Linked DNA regions of Homo sapiens. The protein of the gene in region 2 interacts with the protein of the main gene of each other region in a pairwise test. Each region holds a gene or a part of one and is shown on either strand. Other genes may lie near its edges.

Region 1 (5,544 bases), on a different chromosome or scaffold from region 2:
TTTGAGAGAAGCAGTTTATCAACTGCCTGACCATCATCTGATGGCCACTTGACATTCCTCGTTGGGGGAGGGCCCTCTCCTGCCCTGCTCATGTCTGCCTGACTACCTACTGTCACAGTTCCTTGAGGGAAGAGCCAGGTCCTGAACAGCTCCAGGCACAGCCTGGAGCCCCACAGAAAGCAGGTGTAGAGCAGCATCAGGGAGCAGTGGTCAGCGTGAACCTCTCCAAATACGGCTAAGGAGAGGAGTGGGCATACGTCTTCTCTGACACATCGGGCAGCACCAGTGATCTCTGGCTCAACATGACCATGGCTTACCCCAGGAGCAGCACTTCCAGAGCAGTTGCCGTTCCCATCTGTGAGCCAACAGTCTCCCCTCTCCCTAGGCACCAAGCCCACAGCTGTCCCATCACCACCTCATTTGATGCTCCCAGCTATCCTGTGATCAGGTAAGGGAACACAGGCTGCATACCAAGGCTCCAGGTCCCAGGGCTGAAAGCCCTTTTCCTGGGTGGGCAGCGCTGCCTGGAAGCACGTGGCCAACCACCTGCTCCTTCACTGGAGGGTCTGGAGTAAGCTATCCAATGTGGCAGCCATTGGCCACATGTGGCTTTCTGGTACTTGACATGTGGCTAGTCCAATTGAGATGTGCTATGTGTAAGATACACACCAGATATCATAGATTAATACCAAAAAAGAATGGAAAAAAAAGGTCACCAGGCACAGTGGCTCACAACTGTAATCCCAGCACTTTGGGAGGTGGAGGCAATAGATCTTTTGAGAACAGTAGCTCAAGACCAGCCTGGGCAACATAGGGAGACCACTTCTCTACAAAAAATGAAAACAAACAAACAAACAAAAAAACTGGCCAGGCATGGTGGCATATGCCTGTGGTCTCAGCTACTCAGGAGGCTGAGGTGGAGGGATCACTTGAGCCTGGGAGTTTGAGGCTGCAGTGAACAGTGATGGGACCACTGCACTCCAGCCTGGGTGACAGAGCCAGACCCTGTCTCAAAAAAAAAAAAAATTGATATTTATATATAGGTACCTGTTAAAATGATAATATTTTGAATATGTTGGGTTAAATAAAATATATTATTAAAATTAATTTTACCTGTTTTACTTTTTTAACATGGCTACAAGCAGATTTTAAATTACCTATTTGGCTCACATTATGTTTCTATTGGATAGCACCAGTATGGACAATGACTATGGCCCCTAGAACAGGAGGATTAGCATTACCCAGGAGCTTCTAGAACTGAAAATTCTCAACCAAGACTGAGTCAAAAACTCTGAGAGACAGGACCCAGCAACCTGTGTTTTAAGCAGCCCTGTAGAACTTGATTCTTCTCAAGCTTGAAACCCACTGGTGTAGATGACACCATACGAGGAGTGGTTTCCCAGCAGGAATTGTTGGGGAGATGCAGGCATAAGAGGTGGCTCTGAATTGGCTGCCTTTACATGGGTGGCCTGGCAGGGTGGAGGTGCTGTATCCCAGGGAAGGAGAAGGATCCGGCTCTGGGAGAATGGGCCTTGGTGCAAACCTGCCTCTAAAGCCCCGGGGACCACTTACATAACACCCTAGGAATCTGTCCCCTCATCTGGAAAACAGGGACAGTGATATTGAGGGTGTCTCGTGGAGCTGTTGTCAAGATTAAATGAGCTGACACACCCGAGGTAGCTGGCATGTAATAACTGCTCAGTAAAAGCTAGTTCTCAGTGGGGGAGGAGGGGCGAGGGGACAGAAGCGCGACAAGAAGACTTGAGTTCTACATGTTAGGCTGAAGGAGCTCTTTCTTCTGCTATTGTGAGAGTTTCTTCCCATGTCATTCTGATGCTGGTCCTTCACGTGGCATGCCCCTCCTCACTCTGTCGCAGACAGTTGGCTGCTGCCAGCATGGATGCCACCAGCCTCGAACTGAGCTTTCTGTCTAGGAAGCAACCTAGAGTGTACGTGCCATGCACGTCTGCAATGCTACCTCATTTTTCATCCAGTAATCCTTCTGGTGACCTCTATTTTGCAATGAGACTCAGAGAGGCACAGAGCCAGGACTGGAACCCAGTTTCCAGCTTCCTTGAACCTCCCAAACATTTCTAAGGTATCAACATGGTGACCCCTAGGCTCAGTCTAGGGCCTGGGATGTTGTGACCTCTGACTGATGTCTTGAACACAGTCCTGGACACTGGGCCACCCCTGCAGCATTGACCCTGAGGCTCCAGCACTAAGCTGTGTGGCACTGGGCAGGGCAGCCCCTCTCTGAGAATCTGATCCTGGCTATTGACTAGAGGTTGGATTAGAGGGGGTGAGGGTGAAGGCTGTGCCCCCATCCTCAGAGGCCCTGGAGGACTTTAAGGCAAGATCGGAGTCCCTGGGGACAGAGTCACATGTGAATGCTCCCTCAGCGGCCAGCTGTAGGTGGTGGAGTGAAAGAAGCACTGGACAGGCAGCCAGCTCTGCCCTTCTCTGAACTTGTGTCCCAGTGGGGTGGGGCTGGCTTTCAATGCCCTTGAGGTGGCCCAGCAGGAAGGCCCACAGCAGGGTCCCAGAGCTGGACTACCTGGGCTCAAATTCAAATTTTGGCTATGTGACATTTGGTAAGTGACAAATGCCCTGGAACTCGGCTTCCACGTGAGTAAATGTGCATTAATATGAGGATTACATGAGTGAATGGTATGTTAAACTTTCAGAGCAGTGCTTGGCATGTAGTAAGCGCTCAGCAGAGGTCAGCTGTTGTAGAAAGTAAAAGTTCCTCTTGAAAGTTTCCCTTCTTGTTAAAGAATAAATCGTAAGTGTTAGAAATAATGGTTTCTTTTAAAGACGAACTTCCTTCAAACCTCCTTGCTTTATGCTAATAACTCTTTGTCAAGCCCTATTCTATGTAACTGTTAGACGTGCTCACAGGCACATAGTACGTTCTATGTCCTTATACTTTAACCAAGATATCTGTGCTGGACGTGCTCACAGGCATGTCCCAGCTCACAGCCTATACCCCTTCCTTATTTGGGAATATTATTACTTTTCTAAGTCCTTTCGTAAGCAACTTCCTCTTTTCCTTTATCCTTCCATTACTTTTACCTATTTAGAAAAATTTTAAACAGCCAATCGGGTTTTAGTTTAGATTGTGCGGTCTGGCTTCTGCCAATGGACATAGGACACAGTAGCAGGGACAAACTGCATAAGGGCTAACAATTGCTTCCCTCCTTTGTTCAGGTGTCCTCTCACTATTGTTCCATCTGCGATGAGCACCCTTTCTGCAGAAAGTAAAATTGCCTTGCTGAAAGAATTAAATTTATGTTTTAGTGCTATTTCTTTCCAGCATCGGGGAACAAGTATTTACATATAACAGCTGTCCACTCTTATTACTACCTAGGGCAGAGGTCTCCAAACCCTGGGCCACGGACCAGTACTGATGGGTGGCCTGTTAGGAACCGGGCCACACAGCAGGAGGTGAGTGGCAGTGGGGCAGGGTAGTGTGGGGAGCAAGCATTCCCACCTGAGCTCTGCCTCCTGCCAGATCAGCAGTGGCATTAGATCCGCATAGGAACATGAAACCTACTATGAACTGTGCATGCGAGGGATCTAGGCTGTGAACTCCTTATGAGAATCTAATGCCTGATGATCTGAGGTGGGACATTTCATCCCAAAACCATCCCCCCAACCCCCATCCATGGAAAAATTGTCTTACATGAAACCAGTCCATGATGCCAAAAAGGTTGGGGACCACTGACCTGGGGACTGTGGAGTGAGTCCCCAGGAGGCAGGCTGCAGCCTAGCCCAGGCCTGGTTTGGGGCCTGAGAGGTGATGAGTTGGAGGCTGGGGAGGAAGAGCGCCTGGCCTGGAAGACTGAAGGCCAAAGCCCGAACTGCCCAGAGAAGTACTGGAGGGCCTGAGGCCGCACCCAGAGCTCCCTTTGCCAACCCTCCTAATCCAGCTCTGAGCAAAACAGCTTCTGGGGCCAGGCAAGCAGGGCCCTGGCTCGGCTGCATTCTTGAGGGCCTCAAGGCTTGCTGCACCTTCCCTGGCTCCAGTCTCAGCGTGGCCTCATCTGGCAACAGGCCTGGGACACTCAGCCTCCCTGAGCTCACTTCCTCATCTGCACAGTGAGGAATTCGGCTGGGATGGTCATTAACGGCCTGCTATCTCCTAACACGCCCGGCGTCAGAGCTCAGAACTCCCCTGCATCCCAGGAAGATGCCCACTCAACCTCCCCTGGGCCACTGGAGGCCCGAGAGGAGCATGAGGCCAGCAGCGGGGGCACCTGCCAGGCAAGAGGAGCCCCCAGGGATCTCCATCAGCTGCTTCCCAGCCAGGCTGGCACTCCCACACCAGGCAGGAGCCCCAGCACACCGCTCTCTGCAGGCATAGTGTAGCTGGGGAGGGCAGTGGTTAGGGTGCGGGGACTCTAAACTAAGCTGCTGTATTCAAACTTGACTTCTCCCTTCCCTGGCTTGGTGCCCTAAGATATCTAACCTCTGTGTGCCTCAGTTTCCCATTCTGTAAAGCACAGAGTATGAGGAGTCCAAGACAGTGACCTAAAGCTTTCTGCTGCAGCCCAGGATCCTATACTAGTGGCTAGGAGACCCTATACTAGCAGCTAGGAGACCCTGCCAGACTCATGCCTGCCCCAAGGCCTGCCCAGCCACCCCTGGTGCCAGCTCCCAGAACTTGGCACAGCATCACCCCCTCCCAAAGCCCCCCCATAGGTTGGGTTTGGGTGCCCCACCCAGACCTCTTCCAACCCCCGACATGGGCCACATCCTGTCTTCACTGCCTGGTGACTCATCTGCTTACCCACCCCCCACCCGTGCTCCCATCCGAGGCTGAGCGCAGTCATACTAAGTGCCCCTCTGCGGCCTGGCACAGAGCCAGGGCCGAGCATCCCTGGAGTGAAGGAGCTTCCACCTGTGATGCAGGTGGGAAGCGGGAGGCCTCACCCCTTTCTCCTGGTTCCCACCCCGGCTCCCACACAGGTGCAGGTCAGAGAGGAGGCAGGAAAGTGGTGTGTAAACAGCCACATTATTGGCATAGCCCTGGGTGAAAAAGTGTCAGTAGTTTCACTGGACCCCCAGCCTGGTCAGCCCCGAGGTAGGGCTGGAGGAATCAGGTCTCCTGGGTTTACACTGAGCAGGGATGGGGATGGAAAGGACAGAGGTGGCCCCAGGGCCCAAACACAGCTTTGAAAGTAGTGGAGGCCCACCGACTCACTGGAGGGCCAGGGTGAAAGCTCTGCCCAGCTAGTGTGGGTGGCTTCTGCCCCAAGAGCAAGAGAGAATCAGGCCTCAGGGTTGGAGGAGGCTGGTCCCATCCCAGGAGCACCCACAAGGACTGAGTATGCTGCTGAGTGGCTTCTCCAGCATACGGCCTTGGAGGTCATCCAGTCCTCACAGCCATCCTCCCTGAGCAGGTGCTGGCTCCTCCACGCAGCCTGCCCCTCCAGTGGGGCCCCAGGCCTGCAGCTCACCCTGCTCCCACCTTCCAGAAGGCTTTCCCTTCCCCACTGGATGCCTTCCGGTTCTCTCCAGCGCCTCTGACTGCCAGGGGGT
Region 2 (8,348 bases):
CCCATTAGAAGACCGTCAACGACACTAACATCTCTTCAGCATTTAGTTCTTGAACACCTGGAATTACTTCTGACTTTTGCCCTCCTACTCCTTCACTATCTCATCAGTTATCAAGCAGTGTTGAATTTTTCTTTATCGCCTTTGTTGGCGTTCTTCTTTTCATTTCTTCCAGCCATCTCCAACCTGTTAGGGAGTTTAGGAAATTGTTCAAAGACTGATTAATAAGATGGTATGGAGAGGATGTTTGGTTGGGGATGTGGGAATGTCTGAATCCTGTCTTGGCCAGCCATCTCTACTCATCAGGAGTGTGGGGAGTACATGTGCAATGACACACCAGGGAAAGGAACACTTTATTATTAGCTGGGTATGAACCACAATGCAGAAGTCAGGAAAGATAGGCTGGATTCTGGTCATCTCTGTCTATCCTCCCCACATCAATGCCCAAATTTGAGTCTTGGAACTTTTCTTCCGAGTGGGATAGAGGCACACTAACCAGAAAAAGTAGAGAGAAAGACAAATCCACAGCCTCTTTGCCCCAAGCCCGGGGCCTTGCTAAGACTTTTTCTGTGGGCCATAGCCTTAGGGCCTGGCTACCTTGTGGGAGAGGGAAAGAGAACAAGCTGGCTGGGCTGCCTCTGAGAAAGGCAAGGGCAGCCCTTGTTACCACTCAGAGTATGTTGAAGAACGGGAAAGACGCAGCACTTTCTGTTGAACGTGTTATCTTTTAAGGGCTCCATCCCAAGAAAATGTTATTCCATATTCTCCAATTTTAGTAAGATTTTCTTCCTTTGTGTGTGTTTGGTGGTGGGGAGATGAAATTTCTTCACCATCCTACCTCCACCTTGGGGGAAGGAAGAGGGTGGGGAGGGAGAAGCCTTGAGCGCCCTCTAGAGACCAGAAGCCCAACTCACTCCCTGGTGAATCTACACTCCTATGACCTTAGTGCTTAGCTCAAAATTGTCAACTGTCTATTGCCTACTAAGAACCAGTTCCTTGGCAGGCATGGTGGCTCAGGCCTGTAATCCCAGCACTTTGGGAGGCCGAGGTGGGTGGGTCACCTGAGGTCAGGGGTTCGAGACCAGCCTGGGCAACATGGTGAAACCCCGTCTCTACTAAAAACACAAAATTAGCCGGGCGTGGTGGCGCATGCCTGTAGTCCCAGCTATTTGAGAGGCTGAGGCAGGAGAATCGCTTGAACCCGGGAGGCGGAGGTTGCAGTGAGCCAAGATCGCACCATTGCACTCCAACCTGGGCAACAAGAGCGAAACCTCATCTCAAAAAAAAAACAAAAAAACACAATTTCTAAGGAGGCCATTAGAACCCTCTACAGTCTGGCTCAAGGCACCTTTTTTGGTCATTAGAATGACTTTAGGATAGTAGCAGATAGGGAAAGCACAGAAAAATGAATGCCAAATTTAATCATCCAGCGAACAGACTGGCTGGATCTAATCAAGAGGGGAAGGAACCTGGGTGAGGTTACCAGAATTTCACCTACTTCATAACCAAATCAACAGATCCAACAAGAATTAAATAAGGCATCACGGGAATCTAATCTGTAGGGAAGGGTGTGGGGAGACCCTTGTGGAAACAGCATCTATGTGAAAGGGACTTGATGTGTTCACAGTGGTAGCAGAAGAATCTCTGTGTCTTGACTCTTAGCCAAAAATCTCCAGCCAAAACACAGCCTCCCCTGTTCTCCTGCAAAGGTAAGCCCAGTCCGTTTGGGGCAGTAACCTCAGTTTGCTCAGAATGGTAAATGTCATTTAATCCTAAGAAGGTTCTGCATTAAAGATGAGGATAGTAAAATAAATCAGATCTGCAGTATTCATACTTTTGTGTTAACCTTGGTAATATTTTGTTTAATTTTGTATTTTCAATGTTTGTAAGATTTAGTATTTATCATATTAGAGAATCTGACAAGTTTCACGAAACAAGAGCCTTACTAAGTTTGATGTTCTCTGCCATTTTCTATTTCTTTAATGAAATGTTGGTAATGACCCACTAAGTTACTTATGTGTTTCATCAGTGGGTACTGGCCTGAGACCCTGATAATGGTTAAAAGTACAACTCTGAGGTCAGGCTGATGACTTTCAGATCTAGCTTATTGTCTGGGTTTGGGCAAGTAACCCCTATATGTCCTTGTTTCTTCATCTGTAAAATGGGATAATATTAGTAACTACCCAGGCCGGGCACAGTTGCACACCTGTAATCCCTGCACTTTAGGAGGCTAAGGTAGAACGGCTTGAGCCCAGGAGTTGGAGACCAGCCTGGGCAACAGGCATCTGCCTGTGGTCCCAGCTACTCAGGAGGCTGAGATGGGAGGATTGCTTGAGCCCAGGATGAGACTGCAGTGAGCTGTGTTTGCGCCACTGTATTCCAGTCTGGGAGATACAGTGAGACCCTGTCTCAAAAGTTAAAAAAAAGGTAGTACCTACCTTGTGGGCTCTACTTGATAATTAAATGAGAAAGAAGATAATGTGCATAAAGGCTTCCACTAGGGCCTGACGCATCGTGAGCGCTCAATAAACGTGGGGAGTACTGGGTGTGATGACAAAGGGTCTAATGCACCCAATCTTGGGAGATGAAAAAATGCTGCCTGGAGGCGATGGTATTAATGTTGGGATCTGAAAGAATGGTAAGAATTATTCAGGTGAGGATTCAAGTAAGTGCATAGATGGTGTAGAGAGAAATGAAGTTATGGGCAAAGGGAACAGCCCTTGCAACAGTTGTGAGGTGGCACAATTTCCAGGCTTAAATGACCTGAGAGCTTCCCAGTTTTGAGTGTAGCCTGAGAAATATCTGTGGCAGATGAGGTCAGAGATGGCAACAGGGATGAGATCACCAATGGCCCTGTAGCCACCTCAAAGAATTTTAGACTTTATCCTACGTGTTAATCAGATCTTTTTAAGAGTCTTAAACAGGGAAAAAACATGATTTTCTTTCTTGAAAGACCATTCAAGCTGTAGTGGATTTGGAGAGGGCAATTTCGGTGGCAGGGAGACCAAGAGGAGTCTACCGCAGTGTCTCTAGGAGAGATGACAGTAGCCTGAACCAGAGTAAGAACTGACAGGGAACAACAGTTTTAAAAATCTAATTGGGGCTGGGTGCAGTGGCTCACGGCTGTAATCCCAGCACTTTGGGAGGTTAAGGCAGGCAGATCACTTGAGCCTAGGAGTTCGAGACCAGCCCGGGCCAACAAGATGAAACCTCATCTCTACTAAAAATACAAAAATTAGCCGGGCGTGGTGGTGGGGACCTGTAGTCCCAGCTACTGGGGAGGCTGAGGTGGGAGGATCCTTGAGCCCAGAGAGGTCGAGGCTGCAGTGAACAATGATTGCACCACTGCCCTCCAGCCTAGGTAATAGAGTGAGAATCTGTCTCACAAACAAACACATCTAATTTAACATGGGGACTCCAGAGACAGAGGAAAGAGTAATGGATCATTTCCAGGTTTCTGGCTTGAGCACTTGGGTGGCTAGTGTTGGCACTCTCCTAGAAAACACTGGAGAAAAAGACATTCAATTTTTGGATATGTTGAATTTTGAGGTTAATAGAATCTTGAAAATTAAAGCTTCCTGATTTTGTTAATCCGTTTTCTGACACCCTTTAGCAATTCTTCAATGCAATGCTTTTCACATTATTATATGCATAAGAATCACCAGGGGTGTGGAGATGGGGATGTGAAAATGCAGGTTCCTAGGCAAACAAGCCAAGATTCTGGATACCAACTGGGTCCCAGGACTCAAAACAATCAGCCTGAGTAATTCTGATGGAGGGAGTCTCCTGACGACACTAAAAAAACAACAAAAACGACCCCTCTGCCGGGCATGGTGTCCTGTAATACCAGCACTTTGGGAGGCTGAGTCGGGAGGATCGCTTGGGCCCAGGAGTTCGAGACCAGCCTAGGCAACATAGGGTGACCACCCACCCCCGTTTCTAAAAGTAAAAAAAGACCCCTCGTGTGTCTCCACCGTTAGGTTGTTTTCCCACTGTCCACCCCTCCCTACTTCTCAGGCACCTGCTTGGGGGCCCCTATTGCTTCGAATAAGCTCCGTGGGAGCCAGGACTTTGTCTTGCTAACAGGTGCATCTTCAGCGCACTCAGAACAATATCTGGCACAGCACGAGACACCTAGAAATGTTCGCCGAACGATCGAATGGCTGAATACATTCATATGTTGCTTTGTACAAAAACTTGCTTTCAAATATCTGGGAAGAGTTAGAGATAGGAAAGCAGAGGTCATTTCAAAGAGAGAGAGTGAGGATACCACCGGGAAGGCAGCGCCGAAAAAACCAGAGGGGAACCACTTGCCGATCCCCCAGGCACAGTCTGGAGGTCCCAATTCCCGCGGTAGGGGGGCGAGAGATGCCACTCGTCTGATCAGCAACCATTTTGGGCCCGCTTGCGCCGCTTCTCCGGGGCGTCCGCGTTGTGCTCATCCAGTTGCTTTTGAGGTTCCGGCCCCCTCCAAACCTCTGAAGCGCTCCGTGCACGCGACGCGGCGGCGGGGTAAGCTGGAGCCCTCGCCGCGAGCCCTCTCCGCTGCCTGCCCGCAGCACAGCCGCGCCGACCTCCTCATCATGGCGGCGGCCGGGCGGGGAAGCCGGGCCGTGCGTCGCGTGCGTGCCCTCTCCCTCCCCTCCCCCTCCTCGGCGGCGGCGGCGGCGGCAGAAGCGGCAGCGCTCGCCATTGCCGCTGGTGGCAGGAGGCTGCGAGGAGCCGGCGCGGTCGCAGTCTCCACGGCGCAGGCCCACGGTAGCGCAGCCGCTCTGAGGTGAGTGCCCTACCGCGCAATCTCCAGCTATTTCAGCCCCGGCGCAGCCGCAACACGCCGCCCGCCCGCCGGCCGGCCGGCCCGCCCCGCAGCCGGCACCCTGCCGCCCCCGGCTCTGGGCCTGGGCCCCCGCCGGATTCGGCCCGCCTCGGGCGGGGGGCCCCGGCCCGGCCCAGCCAAACCGCCACCCCGAGGATGCGCAGGCCGCACTAGGCCCCAGGCGTCCTGGCGGGCTCGGGAGGGAGGCGCTGCCCTCCCGAGAGCCCCAGGGTTCCGGCCTCCTCCGCCGCCTGGGGCTCTCGGGGCCGCGGCCTTCTCCCCGCCGTGGAACCCGGGGCCCGGCCTTCCCGCAGCTCGGGAGCGGGAGGCGCGGGAGAGTGCGCCGGGCCCGGGAGCGGGAGGTGGGCGGGCTGCGCGGGACCGGAGCCGCGGCTCTCGGCTCGCCCCCTCGGCCCTTCCCGGCTCTCGTACGCGGGCGGGCGGGCGGGCGGCGCGGTGGGGCCGGGCTGGGGCGCGGGAGCCGCTGTCTCCTGCGGGAGAGGAGGCTGGCTCTTTGGGCGACCTCCGAAGCTTCCCTCCTGCCGGGGTGGCGTGGGCTTGTTACCCAGGTAGACTGGGGGACGCTGGAATATGGCGCGTTGCCCACCTTCTTGCAAGTTAGGAGGTGGCCGGGGCGGCAGTTCGAGGAGGAGGGCGCAAAGTCCTTTTGTACGCAGAAATAAGGAGCGACATTGTGTTTTCTTCCCCAGCTGAGATGTGCCCGCGGAGGGGCCGCGGTTCTTCCTGTGCCTGGGGTGGTGGTCCCCTGGGTGAGGGAGAGGGGGAGTGGCACGCCCCTCCGAAGGAACAGAACCTTTTGCCACTGGAAAGACAGGGGCTCTGAGATGGCCGTGTGCATGGTATTTTCCCATATCCCCAGACCTTTTCGGGTTTGTCATTGAATGTTGTGCACTCCATCGTGCAATGATGTCTGCTGCCTCTCTCACCTGTTGTGTCGTGGCTGCTGGTCCCAAAGTTTCTGCAGTGTATTTGGCTGTGCCCACCAGAACTTGAAGTTGTTTAAAAATCTTAATACTTGGGGGGCTTCCAGTGATATCTGCTCCAACCAGTTGGAGGAGCTGTTGCCTGCTCTCCATTCTTCTTAAGCATTAGATTAGAATATATTAATTGCTTATTTTAGAGCTGGTGTCAATCGTGCTGATTTCTTTATGTGGTCAGAGCAAAATTCACATTTTTTTAAGTGTTCAGAGACTGCGTATTGAGAGACGCATAAGGAGAAAGGTAGTGTGAGTGAGCCTGTCAGCTTGGGCAGTGTTGGGCAGAGCTTTTGTCCCGGGACATCATCTGTGCTCACAGTGATCCTTTTTCCCATTCCATCTCAGCCTAGCCTTTTAAAAAATTATTTTTCCTTTGGGCTTGACCAGTAAGTAATTGGGAAAGGGGGGTGCTGGAGTCTTGGAGATGCTGTTTGTGTGTGTGTGTGTGTTTGATTCATTAGTATCCCGACTCCCTAAAATTGTATTTGACAGTTCTTGACAGGTTACCCCGTAAGACAGTGAAAATATGACTAGTTCTCTCCGTGCATCTGAGTGTAATTTCCTTATTTTATGAGTCCGAAAGCAGACATAATTATCACATGCAATGTAGAATATTTATTCTTAACTTGGATCCTAAATTGTGGGCAGAATTTTTTTGTGTCAAGGGGTTTTTTTTTCTTTTGATAGGACTTAGTGGCTTTCAACAGGGCCCATGACCAAAAAAAACAATAATCAGATTAAGAAAACTCTTTACGGCCGGGTGCGGTGGCTCACACCTGTAATCCCAGCACTTTGGGAGGCCGAGGCGGGGTGGATCACCTGAGGTCAGGAGTTCGAGACCAGCCTGGCCAACATGGTGAAAGCCCATCTCTGTTAAAAATACAAAAATTAGCTGGGCGTGGTGGCAGGCGCCAGTAATCCCAGCTGCTGGGAGGGGCGGGGGCGGGGGCTGCCGAGGCAAGAGAATCGCTTGAACCTGGGAGGCAGAAGTTGCAGTGAGCCGAGATGGAGATCGCGCCATTGCACTCCAGCCCGGGGGACAAGAGCGAGACTTCATCTAAAAAAACAAAAACAAAAACTCTACTTAATCTTTTGGCCCATCCTTATTTGAAGTCCTTTAATTTCCTCACACAGCCTCAAACTCGACATATAGGAGGGAAAATGACTTTTTGCTTAGTAGTCAGTGGTCATAGTCTCCTGTAACAAAGAAAAGTTCTTATCCCCAAGTCGGCAATTTTTGTGGAAATAGTTCTCTTTTTCTTTTTCTTTTCTTAGACGGAGTCTCACTCTGTCACCCAGGCTGGAGTGCAGTGGTGCGATCTCGGCTCACTGCAACATCTGCCTCCTGGGTTCAAGCGATTCTTCGGCCTCAGCCTCCCGAGTAGCTGGGATTACAGGCGTGGGCCACCATGCCCGGCTAATTTTTGTATTTTTAGTAGAGACGGGGTTTTGGCGTGTTGGCCAGGCTGGTCTCGAACTTCTGACCTAAGGTGATCTGCTGGGCTTGGCCTCCGAAAGTGCTGGGATTACAGGCATGAGCCAATGCGCCTGGCCCAATAATTTTCTTATAAAAATATGTATTTGTGTGTGTGTGTGTGTGTGTGTACATACATATATATAATTTTTTTTTTTAAGTTAGAGATGGGGATCTTGCTATGTTGCCTAAGCTGGCCTTGAACTCCTGGGCTCAAGGAATGCACCCACCTCAGCCTCCCCAGTAGCTGAGACTATAGGCAAGTGCCACCGTGCTGGCAGTGGCTTCATAACATGTTTCAAGGAAATTTAGCTCCTGTGTTAAGAGAAGGAGCTATAGAAGTAGAAGATAATGAGGGCCCTTGTCCAGATATAGAAGGTTTAAAGGAGAAAGGATTTCAGGTTTCCTTCTGAATTCCTGTGTATGTCGTTAGGACCCCAAATTGTAGGTTTTTTGTTTTATTAAACGATAATTATGCACTTGTCTAATTTTGTTAGGGAACCGAAGGCCAACTTCCCATGATTTAAATACCTGAATTTGCATTGCCTGCACACTGTAGGTTCAACCAAATCTCTGGGTTGTCTTTAGAAGCATTTTATGTAAATAATCACGAATGAGTGACTTGTTTTAAGGGAAATTTAAGCTCCTGTGGTCTGGGATTAAATTTTTATGCCTTTTCTTGTATGGAATAAGGCATTCAGTAAAGTTGAAGAATAATAACAATGAACAGTAATTACTGAAATTAAAATTTTTCCCTGAGTATTTGAAAAGGCATGCTGATTTTTTGGTTTCTGGAGGAACTATGAACTGTCAGTCTTTAGAAACAGTCTACAGTCCTACCTCAACAGGAAGTTAATGTATACATTCAGCTTCTGTCAGATGTCTTTAGACAAGCCTGTTGCTTCATGCTGAAGCAGGCTTATTCATTCACACAGTGCCACTGTGAAAAATTGAAGGGTGAGGGGAAACTCCCTGGGCTGTTGAATTTCACAAATGTCTACTTTAACCTCAAGAGTTTAGATGCGCCCTTTCTGGGCCAGTAATCATCTAGGAAATGGGATAT
Region 3 (7,585 bases), on a different chromosome or scaffold from region 2:
ACAAATGATAAAATCAGAATATCATCATTTTATAACCTATAATAAAATATTGACTGTAGGCAATTACCAATGTCCAGTAACACCAAAGAGACACCAGCAATTAAGGGCTTCCTAACAGAAGTATATCATACCACTCTCTGTAAAGGGTTCTTGCCAAAAAATGTATTTGTGTGTGCTGTATCTGTGTGTGAGTGAATGTGTGTATCTCAAACCTGAAATCAGATGAAAACTCTAGATTTAACTACCAATCTCCACAGTAGCAAGTTAAGTGACAACAAATTCTAGATCACAGGAAATTGCATGAGACAGATGACACGGCTTTTCAACAAATAAACTGCAAGGGAGTAAAAAGTGACACAAGACACCTAGAGTAACAGGTTTAGTCCATTTTACACTACTATAACAGAATGCCACAGACGGGGTAATTTATGATGAACAGAGCTTTATTCGGCACACAGTTCTGAAGGCTAGGAAGTCCAAGAGGATGGCACCGGTATCTGGAGAGAGCGTTCATGCTGTAGTATCGCATGGCAGAAGGCAGAAGGGCAAAAGAGGGCAAAAGTGTGCAAGAGAGCAAAAGGGGGCCGAGCTTGCTTCTATATAAAGCCCACTCTCACAACAACTAACCCATTCCCACAATAACATTAATCCATTTATGAGGGCATAGTCCTCGCAACCTCATCACCTCTTAAAGATCCCACTTGCCAAAACTGTTACATTAAGAATTAAGTTTCCAACACATGAACTTTGGGGGATACATTCAAACCATGACAACAGGGATATATGAATCAACCTAATTTCAACAAACAATTTATCAATCAATAAAAAATATATGTGGATATGTATGTATGTGTTTCTATATAATATAGACATGTGTATACATATGTTTGTGTATATACATGTCTATATATGTATGTGAACTACAGGATTTGATGATATTAAGAAATGGCTGATTTTTTAATACGATGATGACATTGTTTTAAAGAAAAAAGACTCCTTCTCTTCTGGAAAAATATACCAAAATATTCACAGGTAAATTGGTACAATATATGGGATTTACTTCAAAATTTGAAGGAGTGGTGAATGAAAAGAGAATTGAGTGACAGCGAGTTGAGATCAGTTTGAATGACAGGCATATAGGCATTTATTGTAACTATTCTCACTACTATAAAAGACAAGTTTTCTGTAAAAAAGTTTAAAAAGCATATGAACACAAATAACAAAAACCAATGTAACTAATATTAACAAGGTGGTAATAGAACACTGATATCAGACTATACATTCTAACTTAGGAGGCCATCATGATCACCTGAGGAGCTTCATGAAAATATAGTCTTTGAACCACCACTATTTTAATGAACCTCAAAGGCTGAAGGAATTGTGCATTTCCCTCAGGACAGCAGGAGTGGGGAAAAGAGGCTGAGAACCACTGTGTAAACACTTTAAGGGTATAGAATATATATTATTCACCCAGTATTTATCTTAATGTCTAACACTTAAGAAGCACTTAAGAAACATAAGGTGAATTAATTAACGATCCACAGATGTACAAATGAATAGGCAAGCTTAATAGTAGCTAACTGCCAGATGTGAAAAAAATCATTATTCATATTTGATATTTAAAAAAATTACTCAGGTTATAGAGTTTAAAGAGTATGGCTCTCTGTTTTGAGTGGAATGGGTTTCCTTCATAAAGCCACAGACTAGTCACTTCAAACAGCTACAAGTAAACACCCAGAGTAAAAATAGTTTTAAATACACAATTGGGTGGGGTGTGGCTAGAAAATATTCTGATTCTACAATCTGTTTTGGACAAGACAGTGCTTCTTATGTGACTAACAAAGCAAACAGCAGTCAGATTCCTTGTGCTGAAATAAGTACACTATTTGCAAAAAGGGTTGAATGTCCAAGGCTTATTCAATAAGGACACCACATTTTCCAAAACTAAAGGGGAGTATAGAATGACAAATACCCACATATATTTACATATCCCTAAAAGAAGACATACAACCTCCTGGTATGGATTTTTTTGTGTCTCTAATAAGTACTAACTGGAGCCAAGTCTACCATCTGACCATGGAGAACAGCAGAATACCTCAAGCACAGGAATAATCTAATTTTAAAACTGGGAGGAGCTTAGAAACCACCTAGTCCAAACTTTTCATTGTGTTGATAAAAAACAGACACCCAGAGAGGTTAAAGTGAAAGGCTCTGAAAATTGTTGCAATAGCCACAGATGAACAAATGGTATACACAGGGGCATAGCACTATGTATTAAGAGCTGAGAATTAGTCTTCTGAACGTTCACGAGTGATAACTAACAGGGTATCAGTCTCAATTATAAGCAAATAGCAGTATGTGTGTGCATGTGTATCACCATATATACACACAAAATATTAAAATATATATTTTAATAATTCCTTTCAAAACAAATTCAACCTAGCATTCAAAAGCATCCATAAAGTTACCTCACCTACTTTTTCAAAATTGTGTCCAAATGGGCCATAAGCCAAAAGGCAGGTGTTTTCTCTCACTTATCTTTTGTAGTCTCCTACAGATGTAGCAGAGTACATATTATAATTACAAAAGCTATTCCATATATAATTTCCAAATGATGAATTATAAACTTTCCTATTTTGTTATTCTAAACTGCTATAAGAAACATATTTTATATGTATCTATGAGTATTATACAGAGATATATACAACAATGTAAATTTTTTTAATATGGCAATCAACAAAATGCTTACAAGCAAGAGGAGAGAGGCAATGAGATGCCTTATCCATTTACATTTCCATAAAGGGCTATACAAGGCTTTGTTTAAAATACAGAAAATTGCTTGAAGGGGAGAGAAAGGGAAAAGAAAAAGGACAAATCTTTAGTTCATTCACTGGTCAAACTTTCAATTATTTCAATTATTGATTAGTCCTGAATCCATACTACTTTAATTCTGTGGAGGTAGAAAAATGATGTGTCTATGCCTGTGTATGGAATTGTCCTCCTCAACCAGTTCACCTGCATAGTCAATTTGATTTTGATTCAAAACGATGAAATTAAATAAGATGAAAAATTTGGACTCTCAACTTCCCACCTTTATTAGATTTTTTAGGATCCTAAAAACTGATTTTAAAGGCTTCCTAATATTGTTAAACAGAGTCTAACTACCAAAATTGACAACAATAGTGTTTACTTCCACCTTTGAGGGAAAGTGTTTCTAATTGGGATGATTCCTAACTGCAAGTTAAGCCAATAATATTTTTTTTAAGCTGAAAGCAAAGTTTGAAAATTTTTTTCTCCTGAAATAAACACAGCAATCTTATGTAAATTAACATAATATGAGATTATCAAATTAAGGGGTTTTTGCAAACTCTACTGCAACTCTAAAGTAAACCCAAATTTAAGCAAGAAAATCTGAAGTCATTTACTGAATATAGCGTAGTGTTGTGAATAAGGGATCTAAATCCTAAAAGCCTAAAAGTAATTAAGAATTGGGGTCAGCTATTTTCACAAAAATTTATGAATATTAATAGACACATTGATAACTTTATGTAATAACTCAATAATTTAGATGATGGTCTAAATCCAGTACCCCCTTCAAGGAATTTTATCCGCTTTTATGTACTACCACATATTATATAATATCAACCAATTAACATAAGAATGTGCTTTTCAAAAATAAAAAGGGGGTATCATCATTCCACCGTGAACCAGCCTGAACACTAGAGTATTAATTAATAAAATAGAATCACAGACAAAGACGGTCCTTGGTTAAAACTATTAATATATATTTAAGACAATGGGTTTATTTTTAAATAAGAAAACAAGGAAAAGGAGAGCCCAGCCCGATCTTGTGTGCCTACCCAATAGAACTTTCCACCATAATTAGTGCTTACCAACTTTGAGGGGAGGAGCTTAAGCTCAGGGTAACCTCATGTAGTAAGGGAAAAACAGTATAAATACCACTGAACAGCTCTTGAGAGGCACCTTCTGCACTGCTCATCTGGGCAGAGGAAGCTTCAGAAAGCTGCCAAGGCACCATCTCCAGGAACTCCCAGCACGCAGGTAAGCGTACGCTTACTGGTGGACTTCCATGTTAACTTGCTTGGAAAGAAACTTTAAAGATTTAAATACTTGAGTTTTCTCAAGTATTAGAAGTATTAAAGTGATTTAAAAAATGGGTTTCTACTAAAATGCACTCCAAAAGTTCTTTTTGCATCAGTCTGTGGATGATAGTCCCAATAAAACCATATTGTAAAAATTTGCCCTAATCCGAATTTCAGTGTATTTTGAAACTATTAGATATTTCAGGCTATGTCAAAGATCCTAGATTATTTAATACAGACATCCAATCCTAATTTCTGTTTCTTTTCCTTTAGGTAAATCATTTTATTTTCACTTGATTACCTGAGTATAGCTTCCAAAAATAACTAAGACATATATTCACATAACTAAAAAATGATCTCTCATTTATTTATGGCACATATTAAAAATATATAGGATAGGTTAAAAAAGTAGATAACTGTATAAAGAACTCATCTGTGAAACATGAGAATAAAAAAATAGGTTAATAACAATGCTGTATAAAGTTATTCTTTTCTGTTTTTCAGAATCCATCTGAGAATATGCTGCCACAAATACCCTTTTTGCTGCTAGTATCCTTGAACTTGGTTCATGGAGTGTTTTACGCTGAACGATACCAAATGCCCACAGGCATAAAAGGCCCACTACCCAACACCAAGACACAGTTCTTCATTCCCTACACCATAAAGAGTAAAGGTAAATTGAATTGTATATTTTGTTCTATTAACAAGTTGCTTGTTGCTTTCTATAATCTTAATAATCTCTTTAACAAAATGCATTTAACTTTGGTGTTACTTTCCAACTTCTGAATTAGCCCAAATTATTACAACAAAGTGATCTGTGAAAAAAGTAGAACAAGAATATCCAATAAGTGTAGTAGAAAGGATATACTTGAAAATATAGTTGAAAGATATACCTGCAAAAAATCAGAACTTTTGTGTGTACAAATTTTTTTCTCAGATGCTGCTTTTGCACAAATAACTGCATGTAATCCAGAAATCTTGATCTAATCAAAACTAATCAAGTTTAAAAATTTTAAGCTAAAAATAACTGCCAATTGTATAAAGAAGGTAGCTGGTTTATTTAGCTAAATATTAAACATTTACTTTTAAAACTAATTCAACTAGCCCACAAACAGATATAAAACCGAGTCTTATCAAAAAAATCTGATGGCCTCCCCCCCAACAATGAACAAATGTAATTATGAGAATTGCCAAGCAGGCAAATGAAACTGCAATTCTCATAATTACTTATACATTTTGAATATAGTTTAGCGGTAAAATGCAGAGACTTAACTGTAATGCATAAGCTGTGTGACCTGAGGTAAGTTACTTGTCCTCCCATGCCTTAGTTTCCTCATTTGTAAAATAAGGAGCAGCTATCTCAAGGGCTGCTGCGAAGTTTAAATGAATTAATACCTGTAAAGTGCTTTAAGTGTTGCTATTACTTCTACTACTACTTCTGTTACTCCTAGTTTTATTTCTACTACTTTTAGCTACTAATATAGCCTTCAATAAGTTAACTTTCTTCTTGAATCTGTTGCTTACCTGTCCAGTTTTCTTGGTTACTCTTTGAAGATTACTGAGATAATATATGTAAAGCACTAAGGTTCTCAAAGGAGGGCAACTTCTAGGCCTCATATTCACTAATTTTATTTAACAGCAACTGACACGACCGCCTATAAAATATCTACAGAATAATATAAACTGACTGTAGGCTTCAAACTCCCTTTCCATAATTTTTTAATTATATATTTTATACTGTAAATAAAGCTAAGGATATTTGTTATAAAGTTTAAATATTATGCTTTTGGGAACAACCATTTTGAGCAATGAAACTTATAGAATTGTCTTTTTAAGAAGAAAGATGGAATTTAAAATATTTCACAAAAGGAAACTTAATATTTGAAAATAAATGCACAGGTATACAACAGATACTTTTGAATGTCTCAAAATATAAATAAAAATTTTAAAATTTAAAGGCTAGTAAAGAAAAAAATAAAAGACAAAGCAACCTTCCGCTTTACTTGAAGCAACAAACACAATTTGAAATGCTATGACAAACAGCACTGGATTCAATAGTTTCCATGATCACAAAAATCAGACTTTTTAACACCTTAATAAGAGCATAACAAAGTCTTGAATTAAAAAGAAAATGCACTATTTTAGAAGGTTAAAAATACTTTGATCTTCTCTTAATATACACCATTATCTTGGCTACTTTTGCAGAACAAATGAAAATATCTTAACAAATGAAAAGTTCAGAAGCTGTATTTAAACTACTAAATCCACCTTAGTCTCTTTTTAGATAGACACTCAACTACACTATCATCCATTGGCAGACATTAATGCACCATAACAAACACAAAAGCCCACAGTCTATACAAGTAAGACATTAAGTTGAAACAGGAATTCAAAGAGTTATTACATAATTCCTAGGCATATCCATCCAACACAGGTTAAAAAAGAGTTCTGTCAAAACATACTAAATTATGCTGCAGAGGATTCCACAGCTGGTGGGCAGATGCACGTGCCACATTCTGACACAACCAATCACGATTTCAGTTTGTGGCATTTAAAAAACTTAATAGAAGGAAGTAGTCGTTTTACCTTGAGGATTGTGCCACCCTAATCTTGAATGAAGAAAATTTTTTCAGATGACAACCTACAAACAGGGGCTGTCCCCCAAGCATTCAATAGAAGCCAAATTCTTTCTCGCACTGAGAAGTTGAGACCCATTAGGACAACATTCCAAGTGACAAAGTTCGCCCTGTCACTGGAGTTCCAGTCTCGGATGACGCCCAATGCACTCATTTCCATTGACTTGTTTCTCCTTTTTAATAGTAAAACAGATTTCCAATCAGACTAAGACAATTATTTTTAGTGTGAACATGACCCTTATAATCAGATTCTAAAGCAAAGCTCAATCTAACATAGTTGGCATTTTAAAAAATCCACTATTTTATTCCTCCAACCCATTAAAAAATTCCTTATTTATTCCTCTATTTGCAATATATCAATATCCACTTATACATAATATAATCATGTATGTACACTACAATCAATGAAATATTTAATATACGGAAATCTTTTACATAAATTTTTCTCACAGTCTTTTTCCTGATGTCATTTTCTGAAAATCCATGGGGAAAGCTCTATGTATTTATATTAATCAATGTTTTCAAATTGAAATATAACTCTAATTAGTAAAAAAAAATCTAAATCTGAAACAATTATTTTCCTATTTCGGCATATCTATTTTAATGATTCGCTCTGCATTTATATACACCAAATGTTTTCCAAATCTCAGAAACATCTGTACCCTGTGCTTTCCCCATACTTGTGGCCCAGCCGCATTTTTCACATCACAGGCACTATGATTTTTAGTTTAAGTTTAGTTTATCAGGTCAAGTGAACTCACAGCTCTATGAAATCAAACACTATATATTTGTATTTAGGTAAGAACTTTAATACTATTTTATGTACCTCACCTATTATGTCTAATT

The links. Proteins that work in one complex are often made in the same cells at the same time.
Region 1: the proteins of NRF1 (region 2) and HHIPL1 interact in binary tests that used the Homo sapiens proteins (3 or more experiments, as listed by UniProt).
Region 3: the proteins of NRF1 (region 2) and COL10A1 interact in binary tests that used the Homo sapiens proteins (3 or more experiments, as listed by UniProt).

The regions. Positions count from the first base shown.
Region 1 is NC_000014.9:99,676,129-99,681,672, reverse strand, and holds the end of HHIPL1 (HHIP-like protein 1 isoform a precursor), read right to left. Parts: 3' UTR 1,104-5,544; downstream 1-1,103.
Region 2 is NC_000007.14:129,607,051-129,615,398, forward strand, and holds the start of NRF1 (nuclear respiratory factor 1), read left to right. Parts: upstream 1-4,669; 5' UTR 4,670-4,774; intron 4,775-8,348. UniProt on the Homo sapiens protein: Transcription factor that activates the expression of the EIF2S1 (EIF2-alpha) gene. Links the transcriptional modulation of key metabolic genes to cellular growth and development.
Region 3 is NC_000006.12:116,122,530-116,130,114, reverse strand, and holds the start of COL10A1 (collagen alpha-1(X) chain precursor), read left to right. Parts: upstream 1-3,982; 5' UTR 3,983-4,062; intron 4,063-4,607; 5' UTR 4,608-4,622; coding exon 4,623-4,776; intron 4,777-7,585.